Linked DNA regions of Homo sapiens. The protein of the gene in region 1 purifies or fractionates together with the protein of each later gene. This does not show direct contact. Each region holds a gene or a part of one and is shown in the gene's direction. Other genes may lie near its edges.

The links.
Region 2: the proteins of LRIG1 (region 1) and USP8 purify together in Homo sapiens (affinity purification with western blotting, with the first as the bait; one study listed by BioGRID). This does not show direct contact.
Region 3: the proteins of LRIG1 (region 1) and RET purify together in Homo sapiens (co-immunoprecipitation; one study listed by IntAct). This does not show direct contact.
Region 4: the proteins of LRIG1 (region 1) and UFSP2 purify together in Homo sapiens (affinity purification with mass spectrometry; one large-scale study listed by BioGRID and IntAct). This does not show direct contact.

Annotation. Positions count from the first base shown.
Region 1 is NC_000003.12:66,410,511-66,414,078, reverse strand, and holds part of LRIG1 (leucine-rich repeats and immunoglobulin-like domains protein 1 isoform 1 precursor), read left to right. Parts: intron 1-1,064; coding exon 1,065-1,208; intron 1,209-3,568. UniProt on the Homo sapiens protein: Acts as a feedback negative regulator of signaling by receptor tyrosine kinases, through a mechanism that involves enhancement of receptor ubiquitination and accelerated intracellular degradation.
Region 2 is NC_000015.10:50,427,378-50,430,945, forward strand, and holds part of USP8 (ubiquitin carboxyl-terminal hydrolase 8), read left to right. Parts: intron 1-3,568. UniProt on the Homo sapiens protein: Hydrolase that can remove conjugated ubiquitin from proteins and therefore plays an important regulatory role at the level of protein turnover by preventing degradation. Converts both 'Lys-48' an 'Lys-63'-linked ubiquitin chains.
Region 3 is NC_000010.11:43,083,535-43,087,102, forward strand, and holds part of RET (proto-oncogene tyrosine-protein kinase receptor Ret isoform a precursor), read left to right. Parts: intron 1-3,568. UniProt on the Homo sapiens protein: Receptor tyrosine-protein kinase involved in numerous cellular mechanisms including cell proliferation, neuronal navigation, cell migration, and cell differentiation in response to glia cell line-derived growth family factors (GDNF, NRTN, ARTN, PSPN and GDF15).
Region 4 is NC_000004.12:185,401,957-185,405,524, reverse strand, and holds part of UFSP2 (ufm1-specific protease 2), read left to right. Parts: intron 1-1,906; coding exon 1,907-2,031; intron 2,032-3,568. UniProt on the Homo sapiens protein: Thiol-dependent isopeptidase that specifically cleaves UFM1, a ubiquitin-like modifier protein, from conjugated proteins, such as CD274/PD-L1, CYB5R3, DDRGK1, MRE11, RPL26/uL24, TRIP4 and RPL26/uL24.

The DNA of each region.
Region 1 (3,568 bases):
TACTGATGGAAGGCTGAGTACCCTTCTAGAAGGCAGAGTTTTAGATTCAAGTAAAGCTCTGTTAACCAGAGCCTGACGAAGGACTTTTTTTCCCTGATTTTTTTTTTTCCTGTGCCCTCTTTTTAGCAGAAGAATGTATTTCAGGAAAATAAGACAGTATTGGAAATTTTGTTTCAACAAAACAAAATAATTGTCGAGGGCCAGGTTGGCGGCACGACGGGGTGTGCCTGGCTCTCATCCTACCTGGGTTTCACCTCCCCTGGGTGGGGAGTCCTAGACTTTGCCATTTTCAGTCTGTGGAGAAGGTCTCAGTGATTCCTGAGAAGGTTTGTGTGGGGCAGCATCATGAGACACTGCAGAAATATTTGGGGAAAACCAAGGGCTTTCTGGCTGCTCTGCCTCCCCTTCCCGCAGGGGTGCTAATGGATCTGGCCCACCCAGATTCCTGACATCTTTTGGTGAACTGAGGCTTTGTCATACTGGGGCTAGAAGCCAAGTGTATATGACTTGTGGGGTGTCTCTACCCCATCTCCCCCTGCCCCCATGTGCAGTAACTTCTCTCCATAGTGGAGATGCTGTGAAATGCCCCCAGTGGAAAGTGTTATTGCCATTTGATACATAGTGGTTTGGTTTTTCCTGGGTTGAGGCATGTGGTGTGGATTTCTGTTGCTGAGCTCAGAGATACCTCACATAAGACATTCACCCCTTGAGTCATACCCACGTCCTCACTGCAGAGTCACAAATGGCACTGGTGCTACTGGGGGAGGAGACGTGAGCACACACGCGTTCTCTTCTGTGCAGCTGTGGGCCAGCCTCGGAGCTGGCTGTGGAGAGCTGGCCTCACTCACCCCTCTTGCCTGCACTAGGTGTGGTCAGGTGGCAGCATCAGTGCCTGCATGGCAGCCGAGACACATGGTGGGCTCCCCTACACATCCTGGCTTCCCAGGGATCCCTGCACTGGGATTTCTCCTCTGGCTTGGAAACTTAGCCAGGACTGCTTCAGAATGGTTGTGGGTGGGATATGCACATAAGACACTCTGACCCTGCTGGCTTCATCTCTTTAGGGACCTCAATCGGAACAGGATTCGGCTGATAGAGGGCCTCACCTTCCAGGGGCTCAACAGCTTGGAGGTGCTGAAGCTTCAGCGAAACAACATCAGCAAACTGACAGATGGGGCCTTCTGGGGACTGTCCAAGATGCATGTGCTGTAAGTGCGGACCAGGTTACTGGCATTGCTAAGGATTGCTGTGCGGTGTGGTGTGATGTGGCGTGTGTGTGTGTGCGCATGCATGTGCGCACCAACACCAACGTTGCTGTGTGTTGGGTGTGTGCGCCCACACCAGCATTGCTGTGTGGTGTGGGGTGTGTGTGCGTGCGCGTGTGCACGTGCGCGCCCACACCAGCATTCAGCTGTGCACTGGGCATGGAGTGGGGCACCAGTGCCCAGCCCCTCTCTCCTGAAGGATTCTTCAAGACTTCAGCCGGACCCAGCCCCCTTCCCTTTGCAGCTTCACCTGGGCCCAACTCATTGTCTTGGGGACCGGGCCAAACCTGAGGGTATTTTCCTAGCAGATTGGGACATCCACTGAAATCCACTTGGGGGAAGTTTCAGCGGATTGAGTCAGATAAGTTGGTTGATGGAGATGGAGTTTGGGGGCCATTCTGCCAGGACTGCTTTCCACAGCTTGCATCCACTGCCCCCGCCCCTGCTTCTTCGGTGAACGTGGGGCTGCGGAACAGACCCCTCCTCACATCCTCTCCACTCCTGACCACAGGAAGTTCCTTCTCTCCCCTTCTGGGTTTGACAGTCTTTCCTGAGGTGCAGGTGGGCCAAAAATGTAGAGCTCATCTTAGGAGGTTTATTTCTGTCTTGTGAGCTAATCAAGACACTGGGTGCAGATGTTTAAGTTTTATCAAGGGAGCAGTCTCTTCAGCCAGATGTGTACAGCAGCAGAAGGGGCTTGCCTGCACGGTAACGTGAAACAGCAGGGCAGCATACAGAAAAGGCTTTTTAAACGTTGAAAGCCTTTTTAAACGTTAATATTTATTTTTAATCAAAAGTAATTTGACTGTATAGTTAAATAAAATCAGATAGTAAAGAAAAGCCATCACTGCCCACCCCAGCCTCCCCCGCCACCACCCCCTCATTCTCTCTTCACCCCAGTTCTTCTCCCAAGAGGCAAGCACTTCTAAGCCTTTCTCTTTTTCGTTTTTCTGTTTTTAGCTTTGCTGGTTGTTCCTTCCAAGTTGATAGACTGACACCACTGTCTTTACTTATCCACTTGCGATTTCCTCCTTGAGAGTCAATGATTTAACTTGCTCATGTCCGCCCCTTCTTCTTCCAGTCTGGGCAAATTATATCATGACTCGAATGTCCTTTACTGGTTTTCTTGGCAGTGGAAACGAGCTAGGCCCAGGTCCATCCACATGTTGTGCTGTGTCACTCTGATAACCGTCTCTGCATGACCAGCCCTCCCTACTCTGTGAACAGTGAGGATGTTTCCTGCCGCTGGGCTTCTTGCTCTACCCATTCTCCACCCTTTGTTTTACATATTCAAAAACGTTTCACTTGACCTCCTTAGGCATGTCATTTTGGACTTGGAAGTCCAAGGTGGTCATGTGCTGGGTGGACTGAAGTTAAAAGAGAATTCTCAGAGGAAAATGGAGTTAGCACCTACCATTTGGTTTTTATGTTGAACAGATTTGTATAAATTGAGACTGATGAGCTGCCTTAGAGGTTATTTATACATTAAGTGCTTACCTTTTGAGCAGTAGCAGAAAGAAAGATGGAAAAAAGCAAAACTCAGTTACCCAAAGCCCTTGTAATACTGAACACGGAGCAAAATTCGGGTTACGGACTTTTGTTGAAGAGGCGGTTGCCTGGGCTGGCGCTGTCCTTCCTGGCACATGCTGTGTTGGGAAGCGGGGTGCTAGCACACTTACACGGTGGGCCTGAGAGCTCAGGCCTAGAGCTGCACTGAATCCTGATGTACCCTTGTTTCCTTCTTATAGTGACCCCATGGAGTCAGTGCTCTTGGATATCTCCATGTTAGTAGATGTGCAGGTTTATTCAGCCAGCAAGCTGCAAAATTAGGATTTAAATCCAGGTAGTCTGACGCCAGAGCTAAAGCGGGTCTCCTAGCACAGTGGCACAGAGTCCAGCCTTTGGTAGGCAGACCCAGGGTTGAATTAATTCTAGCCCCTTCCCTACTGGCTAAGCTGTGTAAAGTCTTAGACAGGTTACCTGGCTTCTCTCAGCAGCACATTCCTCATGTGTGAGATGCGGGTGATAATAAGAGCCGCCTCCTATTCGCTCTCCTTTCTATTCCTTTAATGGGCTTTGCCCTTGCCTGGAACTCCTGTGCCCGTTTGTTGGCCTGGGTCACTTTTTGTTTTGTTTTTGGTAGAGATGGGGTTTCGCTATATTGCCCTTGCTGGTCTCGAACTCCCGAGCTCAAGCGATCCTCCTTCTTCGGCCTCCCCAAGTACTGGATGGGCATAAGCCGCCACACCCAGCCCTGGTTCACTTTTACTCAGCCAAAAAAGTCACTTCTAGGAAGCTCCCTC
Region 2 (3,568 bases), on another chromosome or scaffold:
TGAAAGTAAACTGAAGAGTGGTGGTGGTATTGGGAGTGATTTACGGAATTTGTTCAAAGTCATATGATTAATAAATGGAAAGTAAGGCCTGCAACAGTTCCATAATATTAAATTTATTAGTACTGAATGATGAAATATTATATTAAACTTATTTGGAATTCTACATTTATAGCCGTACTAATTTTTTTTTTTTTTTTTTTTTTGAGACGGAGTCTTGCTCTGTCTTCTAGGCTGGAGTGCAGTGGTGAGTTCTCGGCTCACTGAAATGTCCGCCTCCTGGGTTTAAGCAATTCTGCTTCAGCCTCCCGAGTAGCTGGGACTATAGGCACCTGCCACCATGCCCGGCTAATTTTTGTATTTTAGTAGAGATGGGGTTTTGCCATGTTGGCCAGGCTGGTCTTGAACTCCTGACCTCAGGTGATCTGCCCGCCTCAGCCTCCCAAAGTGCTGGGATTATAGCCGTGAGCCACCATACCTGGCCCTTTTTTTTTTTAAACTGAGACAAGGTCTTGCTCTGTCACCCAGGCTGGAGTGCAGTGGCATGACCTTGGCTCACTGTAACCTCTGCTTCCTGGGCTCAAGTGATCCTCCTGCCTCAGCCTCCCAAGTAGCTAGGACTGCAGGCACACGCCAGCACACCTGACTAATACCATACTAATTCAAGTAAAACAGTTCTCATGTATAGTGAATAAGGGTTAACTAAGCCTTGTCTCTTTTGACTAACACATTACAATTTAGTTTTTTGTTTGTTTGTTTTTGAGAGGGAGTCTTGCTCTGTCACCTAGGCTGGATGCAGTGGCATGATCTCGGCTCACTGCACCCTCCGTCTGATGGGTTCAAGCAATTCTCCTGCCTCAGCCTCCCAAGTAGCTGGGATCACAGGCATATGCCGCCACGCCCAGCTAATTTTTTGTGTTTTAGTAGAGATGGGGTTTCACTGTGTTGCCCAGGCTGGTCACGAACTCCTGAGCTCAGGCAATCCACCTGCCTCGGCCTCCCAAAGTGCTGGGATTACAGGCGTTAGCTACCACGCCGGGCCTACAATTTAGTTTTTAATAATGCAGCAGTCTTCCTCTTATCTGCAGGGGATATGTTTCAAGACCTCCAATGAATGCCTGAAACCACAGATAGTACTGAACCCTATATATACTATGTTTTCCCTATATATACATTTTTATGATAAAGTTTAACTTATAAATTAGTAACAAGAGATTAACAACAATAACTAATAATAAAATAGAATAATTACAACAATATAGTGTAATAAAAGTTATGCCCTGTGGCCATAACTTGTGCAACTTGAGGTGTGACAGCAAAACTAGCACAAATTTCTTTTTCCTTCATAATTTTGCAGATAAAAGATCTTACCATAGATCTTAGCAACCTCAGCATGAGGTTTTTGGTTTTTTTTCTTATTAGGTTGAGAACTTTCACCTTTTTGCTTAAAGGAAGCAGTTTACAACTTCTTTTTGACATACGTGAATCTCTGCTTTTACACTTTGAAGCCATGATTAAGTAAAATGAGGGTTACTTGAACACAAGCACTGTAATACTGCTATAGTCAGTCTGGTAACTGAGACGGCCACTTAGTGATTAACAGGCAGGTAGCATCTACAGTGTGGATACACTGGACAAAGGGATGATTCATGTCACAGACTGGGCGAAGTGAGGTGGTGCACAATTTAAAACTTATGAATTGTTTATTTCTGGAATTTTTTATTTAATATTCTTGGACTGTGGTTGACTGCAAGTAGCTGAAACCATGGAAAGCGAAACCATGGATAAGGGGGGACTACTACACTAAATTCTGAAACATACCAATAATGGTGTAAACCCACATGTCTTTTTAATAGAGTAAAATGAAATAATTACACATTATAATACCAATTTCAGAACAAGAGTTATGGGCATAAGCATCCTGGAGGTGTTTTTTTTTTTTTTTTTGGAGGTGTTATTTTAATTTCTCAATTACAGAGTTTTAAAAATGAAAATGATTTTTTAAAATTTTGGTAGGTTGAATGATTTAAGATGCTGATTTCAGCTGGAAACAAATTGTTGCCTTCATATTATTTTGTTGCTCCTAGCAGCATGTTTATATTCATTCTTATATTGATGGTTCCCAGTCTTGACTGGTGTTAGAATTCATTTGGGAAGCTTTTTAAAAATACCTATGTGGGCAAGGCGAGGTTGGCTCATGCCTGTAATCCCAGCACTTTGGGAGACCTAGGCAGGAGGATCACTTGAGCCCAAGAGTTTGAGACTATCCTGGACAACATAGTGAGACTCTGTATTTTTTTAAATATATAAATAAGAAAATAAATACCTGTGTGTATGTCTCATCCATAGAGATTCTGATTTAATTGTTTAGGAGTGGGATCTGAGCATCAATATTTTTTTAAAGTTCTCTAGGTAACTGATTCTAACATACAGCTGGGATTGAGAACTATGTTTTTGGTGCATGTTAAGTACGATCTGGCTCCCTACTTAATGATTTTGCATCTGTTAAAAAATTAATGAGGTAGAAGACAAAAGAAATGGATTAAAGTTATAAATGTAGATAGACATCTATTCTGGAAAACAGTTACCCTTTTGTTAGTTTCTGGGAATGGTCCTTAATAAAACAAACAGACATTGGCCTGGTTTGCTAAGTGCCTATATCACAGCATTAAGCCACACTTTACTTTGTTACCGTTATGTACTTAACTTTCATTTTAAGAGGCAGAAACTTTATTAAGAGTTGTATTTTTTTAGTATCCCCTGTATCACAACACTGCACCTTGTGTATAGTAGGTATCTATTGTTTACCTAATTGAAGCCAGTTTAGACAGTCACTCTTTAGAACTAGGGCTAGTTCAGCTCCTTGGGAGGCTGAGGCAAGAGAATCGCTTGAACCGGGGAGGTGGAGGTTTTGGTGAGCCGAGATTGCGCCACTGCTCTCCAGCCTGGACAGCAGAGTGAGACGTCATCTCAAAAAAATAAAGAACTAGGGCTAGTTTATTCTTTTCTTTTCTTTTTTTCTCATGGCATTCTAAGACTCCCCCAATTAGACAGGGTCTCCCTCTATTGCTCAGGCTGGAGTGCAATGGTGTAATCATGGTTCATTGCAAGCTCAACCTCCCAGGCTCAAGGAAGGCCTCAGCCTTCCGAGAAGCTGGGACCACAGGCGCATGCCACCATGCCCTGCTAATTTTTTATTTTTTTATTTTTTTTTTGTAGTGATAAGGTCTCACTGTGTTGCCCAGCAGTTCACCAAATCCTAGATAACATAATTTTGGTGTCAATACTTAATTATCTTCCAAAACAATAGGGATTATCAAAGTCAACATTGATGCCTTATTAGTTGATAAACAGATTTAATATCTGTCTGCTCTCACATATAACTGATTTCTAGTTAATATTTACATCTTAAGATGTTCCTTTGGCATACACTCAACATTTTCCACATCGAATTACCTACTTTGCTGTAAACCAGTGGTTCTTGTTGGGGGTAATTTTGCCTTCCAGGACACATTCGGCAATGACTGTAGACAGTTTTGGTTGTTACAACTGGAAGGGAAGGATGATAGTA
Region 3 (3,568 bases), on another chromosome or scaffold:
CCTGGGAGGGGGCCACCGTCACTTTCCCTGTGTTCCGTGGGATCCTGTCACATGGTCGTTCTCACCCCAGGAGGCTTCAAGTACAGAGGACGCGGGGATGGGGGCACGCAGGGGTGTACCTGCACACACTTCTGCCTACCAGCTCTCCATCCCTTGTCCTGGTCCACATAGCAGGGGCTCCTGGCGGGCCCAGCAGCTGAGGGGGACAGAGGGGGAAACAGGGTAGCAAATAATTATGGTTTACTCTTTTTTAATTGTGAAATTTGTGTAACATAAGTTTAACCATTTATAAGTGAACCATTTGGTGGCATTTAGCACATTTACAGCATTGAACAGGCATTGCCTTAGTTCCAAAAAATTTGCATCACCCCAAAAGGAAACCCCATACCCATTAAACAGCTGCTTCCTGTCCCCGGGCAACCCCCAGCCTGCGTTCTGTCTCTGCGGCTTGGCCTGTCCTGGAACATTTCATCTGCATGGACTGTTGTCTGGCTTCACTCAGCATAAGGTCTTCAGGGTTCCTCTAGGCTGTGGCACACATCAGCCCCTTCCTGTGAGGGGTAAATAGTGTGCCGTCACCCATTCATCTGGGGATGGACACGTGGGTGCTTTCCACCTTTTGGCAGTTATGAAAAATGCTGCCAGGGACATTCCTGTTATAAATACCTGAGTTCGTGCTTTCAGTTCTTTTGGGTACATACCTGGACATGAAATCGCTAGGTAATTCTGTTTTATATTTTGTGGAGCCGCCAAACTGTTTTCCACAGTGGTTGAATTGTGTTACATTCCCAAGGGTTACAATCTATCCACATTCTCACCACCACGCATTATTCTCTGTTATTCTCTGGTTCATGTCTCACTCTGGCCGTGCAGCCAGTGCACAGTGCTAGCTCGTTGTGGCTTTGGTTTGCCTTTCCCCGGTGATGGCGTGCTGGGCATCTTTTCCTGTGCATGCTGGCCAGTTGCATGTCTCTTTGGAGAAGCATCTCTTCGAGCCCTCTGCCTGTTGTCTAACTAGATGGCTGTCTTGCCATACAGCTGACTTTGCTGTTGCATCTGCATCAAGAGCTGCAGAGAAGCAGCTTTATCCAGGGCCGTCACTGTCAGTGATTGAGCCCCAGGTCCCTTGTGAGGAGAGTGTGGATTCGTCTGATTCCTCACATGGGCATTGAATCACCACTGCCCTCGAGGACCTTGAGGACATTCTCGGAAGACCTGGACTCTGAGGCCACGTTGAGCACCAACATCTGGAAACCATGGTGTCACTGCTTGTGCATAAGAAGGGGCCTCTCAGGAACCGCCCTGTGAAGGATGGAGGAAGGGGAAGGTGCAAGGAGCCAGCAGACCCCCACCCCACTGACAAGACGAGACTCAGCAGCAGGGGAACCAGGGCCGCCCTCTCTCGCTCATCCTGAACCCTGACTCTAAAAATAACCAGGCTGATAATCGGATCCGCTGTAAGTTGATTATCATCATTGCCGTGGTGTGATGTCATGCTGCCAGGCCCTGGGGCAGTTTTCTCAGGACAGCGGTGGATGCACCTAGGCAGCTCTGGAGGCCAGCATGGAGCTGGGGGGCCCTGAACCGAGGGTGGCAGGCAGCCTCTGTGGGCTCCTGCAAATCTGCTTGGTGGGGGTGGAACACTGGCATCCATAGGCAGGCACTCTGTGCTCCCAAGGAGGAGTTCCTGTCCCCATTCGCAGCTAGGGACAGAGCCAGGGAAGCCAAGTGCCCAGCCCTGGCAAACAGCGGGGAAGCACAGGGGCATGGGCTGGGCCGCTCTGCCCTGCGTTTCTGCTCCTTCCTGCTGCTGAACTCTCTCCTTTCTGCTGCTGAACTCTCTCCTTTGGACTAGGCCTTTGTCTTCTTGCCTCATCGTCAGTGGCCTGGGAGGACACTTGCAGTCTTAATCCTGTTTTGGCCCCATGTCCCTCACCCCCCAGGGGCCACCTAGGCCAGAGCCTGTCCTGATTTCCATCTCGGCCACCGTCTGCCCCTCGGCCCCTGGTCAGGAGCTCATTCTGTGGATACTCCTGCATAGACATCACGTGGACTCAAAGGGCATGAGGACCTCGGCTGAGAGGAGCTTACACATCAGTGCAAACCTCTCATTTTACACAGGGAGAAATCGAGGCCCTGAGGGAGGCGTGAGTTGTCACACATGGGGGTAGTGTCAGATGAAGACTTGGCACCACTTCCCTGGGCATCCCCTTCCCTGCATGGCATCCCCAGCCTTGGGTTTGGATTCTTCTTCACCCTTGATGTTGAGGTCTTTGCTCCCAGGACCTGGATAACAGCATCCAGATGCAGGTGGTGCCCCCGCATCGGGCTGCCTGGCTGTGACCTGGGGCATCAGGATTGTCAGCTTGTCTGGCCCCAGGTCTGTGCTGGGCTGAAACCTACTGTCTCAGAGGCTCCTGGCTCTCTCCCTCTGCTCTCCACTGCTCTTAAGAGCAGACCCTCAAGCCTTTTTTGTGTCCTCTCTCCAGGGAGAGCCCAGCTTCTACTCTGCAGCCCAATGCAGAAGGGGTGGTAGCTCACGGTGCCTCGGCTTCTCTGCATGCCTGTCACTGAACAGAGAAGCCCAGGCCAGACTGCAGCTTAATTCCTAGCCTCTGTGTGGCCTCCAGCAGGGTACCTAAGCTAGTGCTGCCTCATTTTCCTCCTGTGTGAGATGGGAATCCTCATGGTCCCTACCTCTGACAGTTGTTTTGATGCAGTGGGTGATGCAGATGAAGCGCCCGGAGCAGACCTGCTCATGAGGAGCACACCGTGGATTCCTACTGGTTAATGTTGAACAGGGATGAGAAGGGGCTGGGGTAGGGCGAAAATGGGCAAGACCATCTCAGCTTGAGGAACATGAGCTGACAGATTGACTTAAATTTGCACATGGACATGATCTGAGTCACTGCCTTGCTGAGTGCATGGGGACAGTTGCCCAGGCCAGAGGCACCAGGGTCAAAGCCAGTGGTGATGCCCTGGCCCCGTTGCCCCAGGCCAGGGCCAGTGAACAATGTAATCAGCTGGGGCAGACTCTACAGCCCTGCAGCCAAGGGGGCCAGTGACCCTTACATGGTCATCCACAGGCCACTTGGGTGGCCAGTCCTGTTCAGCCAGGCCTTGCCCTAGGAAAGAAATTAATTATAACCTAATTGGCAGTTTCCTTTGCATAGAAGCCGGAAGCAACTGCCAGTGAGGCTGGTGATTAACTCTGCAGCAGCTGGGAAATTGCAGTTGGGCAGGAGCGCCCATCATCCTGGCCAGGCCGCTGCAGCTGGTCTGGGTATGGAAGTGTGGGTGGTGGCCATCGTGCAGCTTAGGGCCTGGGCCCCTCAGAGCAGAAGGCTGGGTCTGTGTGCAGAAGGTAGCCTTGGGCTGCCAGGTCCCCCAGTGCCCAGTTGCGGACCTCCTTCTCCCAAACCTCAGCCATGCCTGGACCCCTTCCCCACTCACGGCAGAAGGCTGCATGGCTTTTAGGGGTGTCAGGAGGCTCATGTCCTGGTTGCAGTTCTACCATGGGTGTGCAGCGGGAATTCTGGGCTTCTGTTTTCTGGCATGGGATGGGGTG
Region 4 (3,568 bases), on another chromosome or scaffold:
GTATTAAAAAGAGGAAACGGTCACTCAGCTGAGCTTCGTAAGTCATGACTCTGTCATAACTGGGCTGGCTTTGTGAGATTTTGCAATTACTTACCTCTGTGGATTTTATTTGTAAAATAAGAAGATTGGATTAGCTGATCTAAAGATGCTTAATTCTTTGAAGAACAAGACCTGTCCTGTGATGACAGAAGGCAAGGTGAGACTAGTGTGTAAGAAATGGAGGTAGAAGCTGGGCATAGTGGCTCACACCTGTAATCCTAGCACTTCGGGAGGCTGAGGCAGGAGGATAGCTTGCATCCAGGAATTCAAGACCAGCATGGGCCAGACCGCGTCTCTACCAAAAAAAAAAAAACACACAAATTAGCTGGCATGGTAGTGTGAGCCTATAGTGCCAGCTATTCAGGAGACTGAGGTGGGAGGATTGCTTGAGCCCAGGAGGCTGCAGTGAGCCAAGAGATCCACTGCTCTCCAGCCTGGGTTACAAAAGTGAGACACTGTCTCAAAAGAAAAAAAAAAAAAAAAGAAATGGAGGTAGGCTGATGTCAGCAAAATATCAGAAAGAACTTAATGAGTAGGCCGGGCCCAGTAGCTCACGCCTGACTCCTGATTGTATGAGCTTATGTTTTAAAATACATTTTCTAGCCAGGCACAGTGGCTCATGCCTGTAATCCAGCACTTTGGGAGGCTGAGGCGGGCGGATCACTTGAGGCCAAGAGTTCGAGACCAGCCTGGCCAACATGGCAAAACACTGTCTCTACTAAAAATACAAAATTTAGCTGGGTGTGGTGGCACACACCTGTAATCCCAACTACTTGGGATGCTGAAACAGGAGAATCGCTTGAGCTGTGAGGTGGAGGTTGCAGTGAGCCGGGATTGCCCACTGTACTCCAGCCTGGGTAGCAGAGCAAGACTCTGTCTCAAAAAAAAAGACTGGGCACAGTGGCTCACGCCTGTAATCCCAGCACTTTGGGAGGCCAAGGTGGGTCGATCACGAGGTCAGGAGATCGAGACCATCCTGGCTAACAGTGAAACCCCGTCTCTACTAAAAAAAAATACAAAAAATTCGCTGGGTGTGCTGGTGTGCGCCTGTAGTCTCAGCTACTCAGGAGGCTGAGGCAGGAGAATTGCTTGAACCTGGAAGGCAGAGGTTGCAGTGAGCCGAGGTCACGCTATCGCACTCCAGCCTGGGTGACGTGAGACTCTAGCTCAAAAAAAAAAAAAAAAAAAAAAACTTAATGAATGGAGTGCTATATCACTGGAGGTACTCAGAGGCAGCAGGACCATCTGCTGAGAGAGGCACTACAGCAGATTGTTACTCTGTTGGGAGGAGTTTATGGCCCTTTCTAAATCCATTTTAGGTAATTATATGGATGTGAATGTAGAATATAAATTGTATGTGATTATAGATATGATTGTATCTTTTGTGTTAAAGATGTAATTTTATCCTTTCAGAGTATATCTGACATTGTGTCTTTTATAGTGTAGGGTAGTCCATTTTAATGCTATTTTAGATCAGTTAATAAGCAAAGTAATGTTGTTTTTTTTTGTTTTTTTTTTTGAGAGTCTTGCTGTGTCGCCCAGGCTGGAGTGCGGTGGCATGATCTCGGCTCAGTGCAAGCTCCGTCTCCCAGGTTCATGCCATTCTCCTGCCTCAGCAGGAGCTGGGACTACAGGCGCCTGCCACCAAGCCCAGCTATTTTTTTTGTATTTTTTTAGTAGAGACAGGGTTTCACTGCATTAGCCAGGATGGTCTCCATCTCCTGACCTCGTGATCCACCCACCTCCCAAAGTGCTGGGATTACAGGTGTGAGCCACCACGCCCGGCCGTAATCTGTCTATTTAAATTGAATAGGCATTTGACATTTGTTTATGCCTTCATTCGTATTTCCTATTTTTTCTTCTATAGGGGGAGGAGTTTTGGCCCACACAATACTAGGAGTTGCATGGAATGAGATTACAGGGCAGATAAAGTTTCTGATTCTAGATCCACATTATACCGGTGCTGAAGACCTGCAAGTTATTTTGGAAAAGGTAAGTATCCATTTAACACAAATTGAGACAAAAGGCAAAGAAGCTAGAAATGAAGGATCACAAACTGGCTGGTAACAGAAAGACAATAAGCTGAGGGCAGAGATCTCCCTGTGTGGAGGCCTTCTGAGGCTGTTGTAAGTAGCCGTCTCTGTATAGGGAATGTGCAAGAACAAAGCACATTGCAAAAGACAAAATTTAGGTTTATAGAAACTTTCTCAGCTATTAAAATTAATAATAGGACACACACTCATAAATATATTCCTTTGGAGATTTTAGAGCTTTCATAAACAAATGTATCAAAGTTTATCAATGTCTTAAAATAGATGAGCAGAATATATAAACTTTTAAAATTTTAGAATTAACCAAAAGATAGCTAAGCAGTATGCTAGACATTATGGAGGCTTGACTAATTTTAATTCATTTACATATAACCTAATCTCATTCTATAAAGGGTTTGAAGTTGATACATATTTAAGAGTATTCTTACTTACAATAGCAGATAAAGGAGGTAAAAATTTGTTAATTCATAGGCAACTAATTCTCACATATGAAAACTCAGTACCAAGTCTTTAGGAGAAAGTATTGTAAAACATAATTAACTTGAATTTTAAGTAACATTTATATTCGCTGCCAAATACATTGAAATTGCAGAGAATACATAACCACCTTTTAAACTATAAACTAAAGATAAAATGTTTTAATATGTTAAAGAGTTTTAAGCCAGGCGTGGTGGCTCACACCTGTAATCCCAGCACTTTGGGAGGCTGAGGTGGGCAGATCACCTGAGATCAGGAATTCGAGACCAGCCTGGCCAACATGGTGAAACCCCATCTCTACTAAAAATGCAAAAATAAGCCAGGTGTGGTGGTGGGCGCCTATAATCTTGGCTATTTGGGAGGCTGAGGCAGGGGAATCACTTGAACCCGGGAGGCAGAGGTTGCAGTGAGCTGAGATGGCGCCATTGCACCCCAGCCTGGGCAACAGGAGTGAAATTCCAGCTCAAAAAAAAGTTTTTAATGTGTGTAGTCCAACTCTGTTATATCCTCAGTTTACTGAAGTCTTTTGTTTATGATAAGGGTATAAACACTAATAGGATAGAAATGTGTTGTTACAGTTTTAAGTGTTTTTTTTTCCTTTTCTCTTTCACAGCATTTGGAATTTGAAGTCTATAAAAGGTTTTTTGACTGGTGCATGTATCTTACTGAATATAGTAGCAATATTCTTGTTCTGTAGCAAGGTGTTCATTCCATTCAGTATTTATTAAAGTACCTAACAAGTGCCAGGCACTGTCCTAAGCACTAGTATTACACGAGGTTTTTCGGGAGCTAAAACCTTTAGGGTAGGACAGAGAAGGAGAGTGCAAAAAGGACTCTCGAGAAAAAAAAAATGGTATCTCAGGTGCTTCTACGAGGCTGGTGCTGTGGTGGCCCCTGCCTTGTAGAAACAGTGAAAGCCGCACTGCAGGTAGATCAGTGCGTCCAGAGCTAGGCGAAGAGGTGAGGCTGGAAGGACACACCAAGCTCAGTCAGAAAGGGTG